Linked DNA regions of Homo sapiens: region 2 is linked to region 1. Evidence: fine-mapped QTL for protein levels in blood plasma. Region 1 holds a variant in brackets. A gene starts in the other region. All regions are shown on their forward strands.

The links. A credible set is the group of variants that fine-mapping cannot tell apart. PIP is the chance, under the fine-mapping model, that this variant and not a neighbour inherited with it causes the effect. The UK Biobank Pharma Proteomics Project read protein levels with antibody pairs (Olink). The fine-mapping took linkage between variants from a reference panel, not from the people measured, so its PIPs are less certain.
Region 2: it holds the start of CFD, and the variant in region 1 is the best candidate, but not a certain one, in a credible set for the plasma level of the CFD protein (UK Biobank, PIP 0.53).

Annotation. Positions count from the first base shown.
Region 1 is chr3:187,275,306-187,283,305 of GRCh38, forward strand. All of the region lies in intron 2 of MASP1 (MBL associated serine protease 1), which reads right to left. Among named protein-coding and RNA genes, the nearest start is that of MASP1, 12 kb to the right of the region's middle. The variant C/T (reference allele first, on the strand shown) is at 4,555.
Region 2 is chr19:856,348-860,563 of GRCh38, forward strand. It overlaps CFD (complement factor D), which reads left to right and starts at 3,317. Exons shown (of 5, transcript NM_001928.4): 1 at 3,317-3,397. The coding sequence starts at 3,343.

The DNA.
Region 1 (8,000 bases):
CTTCCAGCAGAGTTTCAAGGATTGTGAGCTGCTGTGTTCCTGTGACACTGCCCAGGACCTTGCCCTGACTCAGGCTAAACTTATATCCTCAAATCTTTGCACAGAAATCCTACAAGAGTGCTGGAATAAGGACCAACTGTCATAGCTCTGCCACTCATACCTCAGGGGTCACTTAAACCTCCCCAGGCGGTAGGTGTGCTGGAGCCGGCAGCTCACACCAGTTTATAAGAGCCAACTGTCAGCTTTTCAGAGATTTTGCTACCCTGTTGTTAAATCCAGCCATCATCAAGTTTCATAAACTTAAAATTAAGTACATTCTATTAGAAACCAGTTCTATGAAAACCAGTTCTGTGAAAACTCATTACTTCCTAATTATGTGATTGTTCTATGCTCTATGCTCTGCGGGCTCTCTGTGTCTGTGCTATCTGAATGTCGAATGATAAGCCACTGCGCATCTCTTTGCCCCCATTCCCTGCCCCCACCCCCCAATCTGGTTGTTAGCACCCATGCCCCTGTCTCCAGGGCACAGTTTTCACAAACGTAAAAAGTGGACATTAATACTCTGAGCATCAGGTCAAATGAGATTCGGGGCATGAAAGCAGCTTGTAAAGCCTGCCATTGGCTGGCAGCATTTAACAGGAACCCTGTTTTCCAGTCTCCCATCCCGCCCCCCATCTGTACCTCTCAGTCTTCATTCATGTTCCTGCCCTCCAGCCACACTGCCATCCTTGCTATTCTTCAAACACACCAGGCACTTTCCACCTGAGGGCACTGAATGTTCCCTCTGGTTAAAGTGCCCCCCAGGGTAGCCCCCCCAACAAGAAAGCCACATGGCTAACCTTACCTGCTTCAAGTGTTTGCTCAAATGTCACTCTCTCAATGAGCACCATATTTAAATCAGAGCCCCCATCTCAACTCATGCAGAGCCCTGCTCTATTTTATTTTTGTCCATAAACTTATTACTTAGTACATAATTTAGTTATGTATTATGTTTAGTGTTTATTGTCTGTTTATCCCAGTGCAATGTAAGCCTCACTTCAGAGATTTCTATCTGTTCTAATTACTGCTGTACCCTAAGCTCTAATAAATTGTAGGCACTGGATGAATATTTGTTGAATAAATGAATACCTCTTCGTCCCTTAACTTTTCCCTTTATAAGCACATCGAAGTAAAGTCAGGCACTGCTCTTCACCAAGGTGTTTTCAACAGCAACCTGTAATATACTCAAGCACAGAGATATGCACCCCATGTGCACCCACACCTGGGACCTTCCCAGCTCACACTCACCCACATGCTCTTCCTCAGCACTGCGAGCTTCCTTTTGTTTTCCATCACCCTGAAGCCTGTGCTGTTTGCACTTTTGGCATAAAATGAGCTTTCATTACACTTTCCTGAAGCAAGCTCATTTTCATTTTCTAATTCTTCTGAATAAGCTAGAATTGGTGTTTGGGTCCTGGTGTCTCTGGAGTGGGAGAATTCCACCGGAGACTACAATTGAAATTCATGAGAAATGTTTACCCATTTCTCATTTCCTTCTGGGGCCAAGGCCTCCTGTCCACTCCCAGAGAATGAGCAGAGTTATGCAGTAGGTGAAATGAGTTCAGCCGGAAGGTCGAGGGCATGTTCTAAGTAAACACAGAGCATTGCACAGAAATTAGGAGCTTAGGGGTCAGAAGAGTCCCACTTGGGAGCGACTTACCTCTCAATTACACAGCAGGATGCAGACTGACCCAATGTGGCCTGAGGGAAGGGGCATTGGACTGGGAGTCACAGACCATCAGAACTGGAAGGGTTTGGAGAGGCCAGCTGGTCCAGTTCCCTCATCAGGCAGATGGGGAAACTGAGGCCTTGAATGAAGACGTGACTTGCCCAAGCTCTCAGCAGGAGTCAGCAGCTGTTTTCTAGGCCAGAGCCCTTTCCACTGCCAGGAGACATGTGCCTTTTCCTGTTCTGCCCAGGACTGTGCTTTCTACTGGAGAAAACACAGACATAGGCCCTGAACTCATGGGGCTGGCAATCTAGTGGGAATGAGCTTGAGCTCATCAGAAAGGATGTACTACAAGCAGATGATACAAGCACTTGCAGATTCACTGTAGTTCAGACTCCATTTTCTATTATTTTTAAAAAACATTTTTTTCTCTCAAAGGATAAAAGAGAACGTTATTTAAAATAATCTAGACAATATAGGGACCCTCAAGGACCTTCTGTTTTACTAAATTTTATGAAATCATCTTGACAAATAGAGTATTGTTTCAGGAATAATGCATGGCCAGGAAACACAACAGGACCCCTTCCACAGTAAAGCCTGTTCTGAGGAAGGCTGCATGGAGACACAGAACCATGACTTGGGGAGTTAGAAGAGCAGGGATTCAAGCCTGGCTTTCCTGCAGAGACTTGAACAAATTCACTTGTACCTGTTTCCTTTTTTGTAAATTAGGTGCAATAATCCGTGCTCTTCCTATTCCATGGGAATCAAATGAGTTAATAGATTAGAAACTGCTGTAAAATGTGTGTTTCTACAAGGTAAATACAAAGGAGAAATAAATAACCTCCTGCTTTCGAATAGTGCTTTGGAAGCACTTTTCCATAAATTGCTAGAAAAAACTCAGTAACATTAGCAAGGTCATACATAGGCAGTCAGTGGTAGGGTCAGAGTTGATAAGAAAACTGACATTCATTGAACATCTGGTGATACCAGGCAGACACTTTATTACTCATACCATTGCCTTCATTACCACTATAATAGTACTTTTGAGCTAATTAGAGATGTGTTGGACATATGACATTAAAGCATTTACTTCATTTGGCATTCACAGTAAGTCTATGAAATAAGCATCATTATTATCTCCATTTTACAGATGGAGAAGAAAATCTTAGCAAGGTTAAGCAACTGCTCCAGTAAGAAGTGGAGGCAAGACTTGACGCTGGGTCTGAATGACTCCAAAGTTTGAGCTCCCAACCACTGAGCACAACTGCGTTTTGCAGTACTGATTCCACTTAGACCCTCATGTCATTCAAATCCTCCCACAACCTGTGAGGAAGACGTTGTATTCATTAGGAACTCTTCCTTTCAACTGATGACAAAACCATTGCTGAGGGAGATCAAGGAGCTTCACCAAGGTTCCTCACTCAGATGGTGGCAGAGACAGAATTTAATCCTCACTGTGTTAATCCTCTCTCCATCACTGTCTCTGTGCTCTTTCTACACCCACTCTTACGACTCTTTAAGCTCTGTCTCAAAATTTAGACCAGCATTTCCAGCTGTATTCAAAACTCAATGCACTTCAGTGCACTCTATATCTTTCTAAATCTACACATCTTCACGTTCCTGATCTCAATTTCTGGGTAAGTAGCCAATAAGTTGTCATAACTGGGGCTTAAAGCCTCTGATTCCTCCTTTTTCCTCTCCCATACGCAGCCAGTTCCTGTGGAGTTTACCTCTGCACATCCTACCTGCTCTTCCATAGCTGTCCAGGAGGCCTGTGGGCTTTCTTGAAGTATACTACGCTCCACATAGTCATATCCAATCTATTTAGCACAGCCACCTAAATGGCCTCATTCAGCAGCTCCAGTTTATTTTGACTTTACTAGTCCTTGACATCCCTCATGTAGCTCCAGATTAACCTTCCTCAAGCATACCCTCGACTGTGTCACATCCCCGAACCCCACTGCCCCACCCCTCCGCCACATCACAGCTTCTAATTGGACGTCCTAGACTAAAATGCTAAAAGATGCCAGGCAGAAAACATAAATGAGTGAAACAAGCTGCTATGAATTCTTTAGACAGAAATATACACTTTGCGTGTTAAATACAGAGGGATATTCTTCACTCTGCAAAGAAATTTTTCCTGAAATACGTGTCTTTCTCAAGAACTTTCAACTTTTCTACTTTTGATAGAGACACTGGGGAAAAATGATTCACTTTCTTTACTGTAAAATCAGCAATGGTGCCATTAAGAGGCCAGAAAGCATTAGCATGGGGGAGCTATAGAGAATGGTGGGGACCCTACCCACAAGGCCACCTCTTCCTGGTGTTGGCTGATTGTTGAAGGCAGGAAGCTGCAAGAGTTGCCAGATTTTCTAATATTCTAAGAGAACTTGGAAATGCAGATTGTTGTGTGAGATCGGAAATTTTATGTTGTCATAATTCTTTCTTTTTTTTACACCCCCAAATCATAGTATAAGTTAATATTAGGCTGGCCAACAAAATCCATCTGTGAAATTAATTCAACCTTTGACCACACGTATGTGATTTGGGGAGCACATGCTTAAACCCAAATTTACCAAACATTTCTCAGTTGACCCTCAGATAACCTTTCTGGGCTTTACGTCTCCCCAAAACATGCCAACTCTGATTATTCTCAGTTTTGCATCATTCCCATCCTCTTCAACCTCCCTGCTTTGATGGTAGCTCTGCTAAGAAATCCTACTTAGAGAACTGCACTGCCAAATTATTATTTACCTCTAAAGACTAATCTCAAACATCAACTATTTCCAAAGCCCTCCCTGGCCATCTAAAAATGACCACTCCCAAACTTATATACTGACTGATAA[C/T]CCTTGTGTTACTTTGTCTGGCTTTATTATGCACTTATTTCATTATATTCTATGGAACCGTGAATTCCTTGAGGACTTTATAGTTCATTTTACTTCGAAGAATTCTTTTTACTGATCTTTGCAGACCCAGTCTTTGGCATAGTGTCCAGCTTATGGTAGATTTTCAATAGGATTACTGTGCTTCATTCCATAGACAATGGGGAGGCATTGAAAGATTTTTAGAGTAGCATAATCAAAGCTATGTTCCAAGAAGATCCTTCTGGATACTCATAGAAGGTAGGCTAGATGGGGAGAGGCTGACATCTGGTAGACATATAGAAGGCTATTACAATAGACTAGTTGAGAGGAATAAGAATTGGAACTAAGGAATTAGCAGTGGAGAGGATGGAAGAAATGTCGAATACATCAAGGATATAGGGTTAAAAGGAGAACAGTGGCATTGCATTACATAAACATGTCACAGATGCTATTAAAATATTACACATGGTGACATAAAGAGAAAGAAAGAAAGAGAGTGCAATCCAAATGCAGATGATTTATGCTTCCTTTTACAGTGAATAGATGCCATGAAATGAACTTGAAATTGGAACGTGTAATCTGCTGTTCTCTTGTTGGTTCTGGTTTCTAACTATCTAGACTCTCTCCATAACTATAGCTTCATAGTTTCTTTGTAAGTATAAATGGACCACTTCATCTGGTGCTCAACCAAAGGAACTTTAATTTCTTGCATTTTTGGAAAAAAATTCTTTTCTGGGCATCTAAAAGATAATGCTTTGCAATATTTAAGGGATTTTTTAATGGTAAGTTTGACTAGAGACAATATTTGTCTTATGTTACAACATAAAAACTAGTCATTCACAAGATGGGACTTTGCTGTTTTTTAATCTGTTAAATAATTCTGTTAAATAAATAGAAGAAAAGACTGAGAATCTTAAGATGTAAATTCTAATACAAGCATGATGTTGGCCAATCAACTGCCCTTCCCTGGACTTTGGACATGTTGATCATGGGGTTGGATCATGATTTCTAAGGTCTTAGATGCACAGAACATCAAGGCAAAGTAGACCTTAGAGACCATCTGGTTTAACCGTTTGTATTTGAAAGAGGAGGAAACAGAGTCCATTTTAGGTGCAGTCATCTGCCCAAGGTTAATGAGTATAGAATGACACCCAGGACCCAGGCTGCCTGACTCCCTGACTAGTATCTGTGCTTTGCCTCTTGCCTGCAGCATTAACCAGCCTTGATTCGTATGCCTCATCCGTACACTACAGGAATCTAAACATTGCAGCCACATGCCAAGGAAGCAGATGCTGCTGTGCAGATGTGCATGAGTCTTGAAGACCAAGAACTGTGGGAAATCAGGCAGGAGAGGAATTTTCATAAATGTGAGCATCCGGACCACAGACTTGGGAGTCCTGCTCTTCTTCAGGCTACTGATGAGCAGTATGAGCAGTTCCATCATCATCGCCCCTATGGGCCTGGGTGGGAAGGGCAGCTTGCGGGGTTGGGCTGGGCTGGAAAATGTTCCTGTGAGTTGGAAGGTTTCTTAAACCTACTCCTATGTAGGCCTGTGAGGAGAATTTAGTCATAGAGGAAAAATGCCTCAAAACAGGGAATTTTATCCTGTCAAAGGCAAGTCAGTGATATTTTAAGTTTCTTGGTAAAGAACAGTGTTGGCATGATATGTTTACAAGTTCTGTGATGACATACCACCAAGGCATCCCCAGCAGGCTGCAGGCTCCTACTGGAGTGCTTGCAGTTATGCAACATTGAGAAGCAGCTGCTGTAAACATACGATTTCTGTTTTCTGGTGTTATCCTGACTATGATAAGGAGTGTTTGGTGGGGTCATCTTGGAAGTTCTGGTGAGGAGGATTGGGATTACAATTCCAGAATTGAAAGGACCATGGGGATCATCTTGTTCCATCCTCTCACTGAACAGAGGAAAAAACAGAATTTTGGAGAGGGATGTGGATTTACCTGGGGGCCACATGGCATATTTGCGCTTTTATTCAGATGGAAAGGGAAAAGCTTCTCTTCCATTTATAGCCAGAAAAAGCATATATGCTAGGGGCTAGCATTGGCCAGGCGATTAGAAAAAGTCAGTGGGTTTCAACTCAGTGTGTAAGACTTCTGGGTTTGGGATTTCAGAGGCAGACTGCTCACCCACTCTCTGAACTCTGACCTCCTCTTCTGTCCAATAGGAATGTGGCCAGAGCAGCAAGATTCAAGCCATAATCCCTCAAGGTGCTTCAGGGTAACCAAGAAGGATGAGCAAGCAAAACCACCTTCAGCTAGAGCAGCTCACTTCTGTCTCTTCTCTACGTTGGGCCTAACTGAAGATTTTCAAGAAGAAAATGTGGGCCGGGTGCAGTGGCTCACGTCTGTAACCCACTTTGGGAGGCCGAGGTGGGAGGATCACGAGGTCAGGAGGTCAAGACCATCCTGGCCAACATGGTGAAACCCCGTCTCTGCTAAAATACAAAAAATTAGTCAGGCATGGTGGCATGTGCCTGTCGTCCCAGCTGCTCAGGAGGCTGAGGCAGGGGAATCACTTGAACCCGGGAGGTGGAGTTTGCACTGAGCCGAGATCCCGCCACTGCACTCCAGCCTGGCAACAGAGCAAGATTCCGTTTCAAAAAAAAAAAAAAAAAGAAGAAGAAGAAAACGTGTACTGGGGAGAATATATTTGAAAACCACAACTTAAGATGAGATGCGTCCCCAGAGGGCCCCTGCAGCCTGACATTCTGTGAGTTCTCAGCTCTAGGAGGGCAACTCACTGGGTGTGTGTAGGCAGGGGCACAGGGTGGTTTCCACATGAGCACCAGTAGTCAGCCAACTAGCATGCAGCATCCTGCAGAGGGGAGGCCTGCTGGTGCCCCACGGCTGTTGGAACCTCTGCAGAAGGCTAATGCTGACATTAGGGTGGCCTTCTGGAAGAGAGTCAGCTGTGCAAGCACAAGTGGAGAAGTCTATCTCACCTCCCGCCGCCACCATGTTAATCTCTTCTTTGAAAGGAACTGGAAAATTGTCCCAACTCACAGATGCAAGGACTGTAGGGCACTTCAGGTAGGCAGCTCAGTCCCTAAGTTGCCTCAAGTAGACTACTTCTCTGTTATGCCCAGAGGTCATCTGTCTAATTTTGGAGCAGAGAGGGTGCTGTAAAATAATATTCTTCTCCACTCCATGTCATTTGGGGAGTTAGTGACAGATCTGAGACCAGAAAAGGCATTTCCTGAATTCCATGTAAGGGCCCAGGACCATGCTGCCCCTTCCAGAGGGCCCATGTCCATCTACTTGTGGTTTCAGGAAGGAGTCTCACCACTCTAGATAGAAACCATCAACCAATTTCCAAAATATTCTCTAGCCAAGAAAGTCAAGCTTTGGATAGAAATCTATTCCAGTGTCTTTAATTCAGTGTTAGAAGAGGTCTTCAGATTATATTAT
Region 2 (4,216 bases), not on the chromosome of region 1:
GCAGGCGGATCACTTGAGCTCAGGAGTTCAAGACCAGCCTGGGCAACATGGCAAAACCCCCGCTCCATTAAAAAAAAATAAATAAATAAAATAAAATAAAATAAAATGGTCCAAGCCTGGCCCAGTGGCTTACGCCTGCAATCCCAGCACTTTGGGAGGCCGAGGCTGGCAGATCACCTGAGGTCGGGAGTTCAAGACTAGTCTGCCAACGTGGTGAAACCCCATCTCTACTATAAATACAAAAAAAATTAGCTTGGCGTCGTGGCGCGTGGGAGGCTGAGGCAGGAGAATCGCTTGAACCTGCGAGGCGAAGGCTGTAGTGAGCCGAGATTACGCCACTGCACTCCAGCCTGGGCAACACAGAGAGACTCCGTCTCAAAAAAAAAAAAAAAAAAAAAAAATACCGGTGCGGTGGCTCGTGCCTGTAATCCCAGCTCTTTGGGAGGCCCAGGCAGGCGGATCATCTGAGGTCTAAAGTTCGAGACCAGCCTGACCAACATGGAGAAACCCCATATCTACTAAAAATACAAAATTAGCCGGGCGTGGTGGTGCATGCCTGTAATCCCAGCTACTCGGGAAGCCTGAGGCAGGAGAATCACCTGAATTCTGGAAGGTGGAGGTTGCAGTGAGCCAAGATCGCTCCATTGCACTCCAGCCTGGGCAACAAGAGCGAAACTCCATCTCAAAAATAAATAAATAAATAAATAAATAAATAAATAAATAAATAAATAAATATAAATAATAATGATAATAATAATAATAAACAACAAACTAGAATCCAGAGTCTCTTGGGCATCTCTGGAGTAAGCCACCACCAGGGGGCAGCACAGCCAGGGCAATGGAGCAGAAGTGACTTCCCCACATTGTGTTTTTTTCTTTTTTGTTTTTAGATGGAGTCTCGCTCTGTCGCCCAGGCTGGAGTGCAGTGGCGCGATCTCGGCTCACTGCAAGCTCCGCCTCCCGGGTTCACGCCATTCTCCTGCCTCAGCCTCCCGAGTAGCTGGGACTACAGGCGCCCGCCACCACGCCCGGCTCATTTTTTGTATTTTTAGTAGAGACGGGGTTTCACCGTGTTAGCCAGGATGGTCTCGATCTCCTGAACTCGTGATCCGCCCGCCTTGACCTCCCAAAGTGCTGGGATTACAGGCGTAGCCACCACGCCCAGCCCTGTTGTTATATCATTTTCTATTCTCTGTGCGTATGAAATAATCCACAGGGGGCCAGGCATGGTGGCTCATGCCTGTAATCCCAGCACTTTGGGAGGCCGAGGTGGGCGGATCACCTGAGGTCAGAGGTTCGAGACCAGCCTGGCCAACATGGCAAAACCCTGTCTCTACTAAAAATACAAAAAGTTAGCCCAGTGTGGTTGCTCATGCGTGTAATCCCAGCTACTCGGGAAGCTGAGGCAGTAGAATCGCTTGAACCCGGGAGGTGGAGGTCGCAGTGAGCCGAGATTGTGCCACTGCACTCCAGCCTGGACGACAGAGCAAGACTCTGTCGCAAAAAAAAAAAAAAAGCAAGAAAGAAAGAAAAAAAGAAGGAAAGAGAAAGAAAGAAAGAAAAAGAAAGGGAAAGAAAGAGAAAAACAGAGAAAGGAAGGAAGGAAATGAGGCTAGGCGTGGTGGCTCACACCTGTAATCTCAGCACTTTGGGAGGCCGAGGCAGGCGGATCACGAGGTCGGGAGATCGAGACCATCCTGGCTAACACGGTGAAACCCATCTCTACTAAAAATACAAAAAATTATCCGGGCGTGGTGGCGGACGCCTGTAGTCCCAGCTACTCCGGAGGCTGAGGCAGGAGAATGGTGTGAACCCGGGAGGCGGAGCTTGCAGTGAGCTGAGATCGCGCCACTGCACTCCAGCCTGGGCGACAGAGCGAGACTCCGTCTCAAAAAAAAAAAAAAAAAGGAAAGAAAAGAAAGAAATGATCCATGGTGAAGAGAAAAGCCGGGGGAACCTCGTGTGCTGCTCCCCCTGGGGACAATGTCTGAGGTCCTCCCCACAAGGTATCCCCATCCTTCTGGTCCCCGCACCATGGATTAATGCAACGTGAATCCCGCTGGCCCCTGTGGGGCAGATGTGAAAAATGGAGCTACACCATGAGCAGGCCTGCAGTCCCAGCACTTCTGGAGGCTGAGGTGGGAGGATCACTTGAGCCCCGGAGGTCGAGGAGGCTGCAGTGAGCTATGATTGCACCGCTGCACTCGAGCCTGGATGAAAGAGCAAGACCCTGTCTGTAATAAAACAAAAACAACACACACAAATCCCCACCTCACAAAAGGCCCTATGGCCCAGATTCTGAGAAGTATTTTATTTTAATTTTTTTGTAGAGATGGGGTCTCGCCGTCTTCCCCAAGCTGGCCTTGAATTCCTGGGCTCAAGAGATGCTCCTATCTGGGTCTCTCAATGTGCCGGGATGGTAGGTGGGAGCCACTGTGCCCGGCCAGCCCTGACTCTGTTCATCAGAACCTGCCCTCAGTGAACAGTTTGGGAGGGGGCGTGTGATCCAGGCTCCACCAACCCAAGGCACCCTTGAGACTTGGCTGGAGTGAGGAAGAATTTTAGGAGGGGCCCACTGAGCCACTGGGTTGAGTGTGGGGTCCCTGGAAACACACCAGGGGAGGCTGGTGAGGAAAGAAGCCATCAGAGAAGAAAGGAGAAGCCAGAAGCAGACACTGGACATTGTTCAGGCACCTGGATCAAGCCACACCTGAAGGCGGACATCCCTGAACTTTCCATATAACTTTCATGATTCAGGCTCCACCCAGTTTGTCTGGGTTTTCCTGTCCCTTGTAGCCAGTCTTCCCAGCTGCCTCTGCCTTGGCCTTTCCAACTTTCTATTCGTCAGGGTGTCAAGCCCCAGAGGCCACAGGGACAGAGACAAAGGTGTCAAGTGACCTTCCTACCCCCAACAGACCTTCTCTCTAATATAGAGGAGGAAAAGAAGGGAGGGTAGCAGGACAAGAAAGTGGGTTGTTTACACGCTGTGGCCTCCAGCTAGGATTGTGAAACACCCTGGGGGACTCTGGGTGTGGTGAAGTTGGGGCCGGGGTGGGTGCAGCCCCCCTCTCTGCCTCCTGCCCATCTGAGGGACTGCCCCCCACCAGGGCCAGCAGGCTGTCAGGCTCACAGAGGCCCGAGGGTCTCCCAGCGACTTGTCGACTCTGGTGTGAGTCTGGCAGGAGGTAACCCAGTCCCGGGGAGGGCGGAGGCTGGGCGGGCGAGTTCCCCTTTCCCCAGCTGGGCCGCTGCCCACCCGGGGAGCGGCCCGCCCCCTCCACCCTCATAAAAGCACCCCCAGGGCCCTGCCTGGGTCAGTGTCTCAGCCACAGCGGCTTCACCATGCACAGCTGGGAGCGCCTGGCAGTTCTGGTCCTCCTAGGAGCGGCCGCCTGCGGTGAGGAGGCCTGGGCCTGGGGTGAGGGACAGGGCTGTGTAGGGGCGTGGTGCTCCCTTCCGTCACACGGACGGTCCTCCAGCCCCTCCAGGTGGGCAGGAAGGGGGTGTCTCTCCTCACTAATGGAAGGCTCTGAACGCTGAAAAATTCTAGAAAATTCAGATTGGAAATCGGAACTTTCTGGAGTCAGCTTTTCTTGCAGACAGAGTCTGAACGTCTGCGTGGAAAACTTCATCTGCGTGGCTGACTGGGCTGGCCCAGGCACTGGCTGGGTCAGCCCCATTTCTCTTATGTCCAACTGGAAGGCACTGCGCCCAGGGTAGGGCGCTGGGATCTGCCCCCGGTCCCCAGCCCACTGTGGGTTCTGTACTCTGGGGCATTCCCGCCCGAGGGTATCTGAGTTTGCAACGCTGAGGGGCCCCAAGACGGAAACGGGATTCTTTTTTTTCTTTCTTTTTTTTTTTGATAGGGAGTCTCGCTCTGTCGTCCAGGCTGGAGTGCAGTGGTGCGATCTCGGCTCACTGCAAACTCCGACTCCCGGGTTCAAGCGATTCTCCTGCCTCAGCCTTCCGAATAGCTGAGATTATAGGCCACGCCGACTAAATTTTGTATTTTTTTTTAAAGTAGAGACGGGGTTTCACCATATTGGCCAGGCTGGTCTTGAACTCCTGACCTCATGATCTGCACCCCCCCCTCCCCCCCCGCCCCCGCGCGGCTTCACAAAGTGCTGGGATTACAGGCGTGAGCCACCGCGCCCAGAGATGGGATTCTTGCGGGGAGCGGCCTGGGGGGTGAGAGCTGGGATCCCGTCAGGCAGCC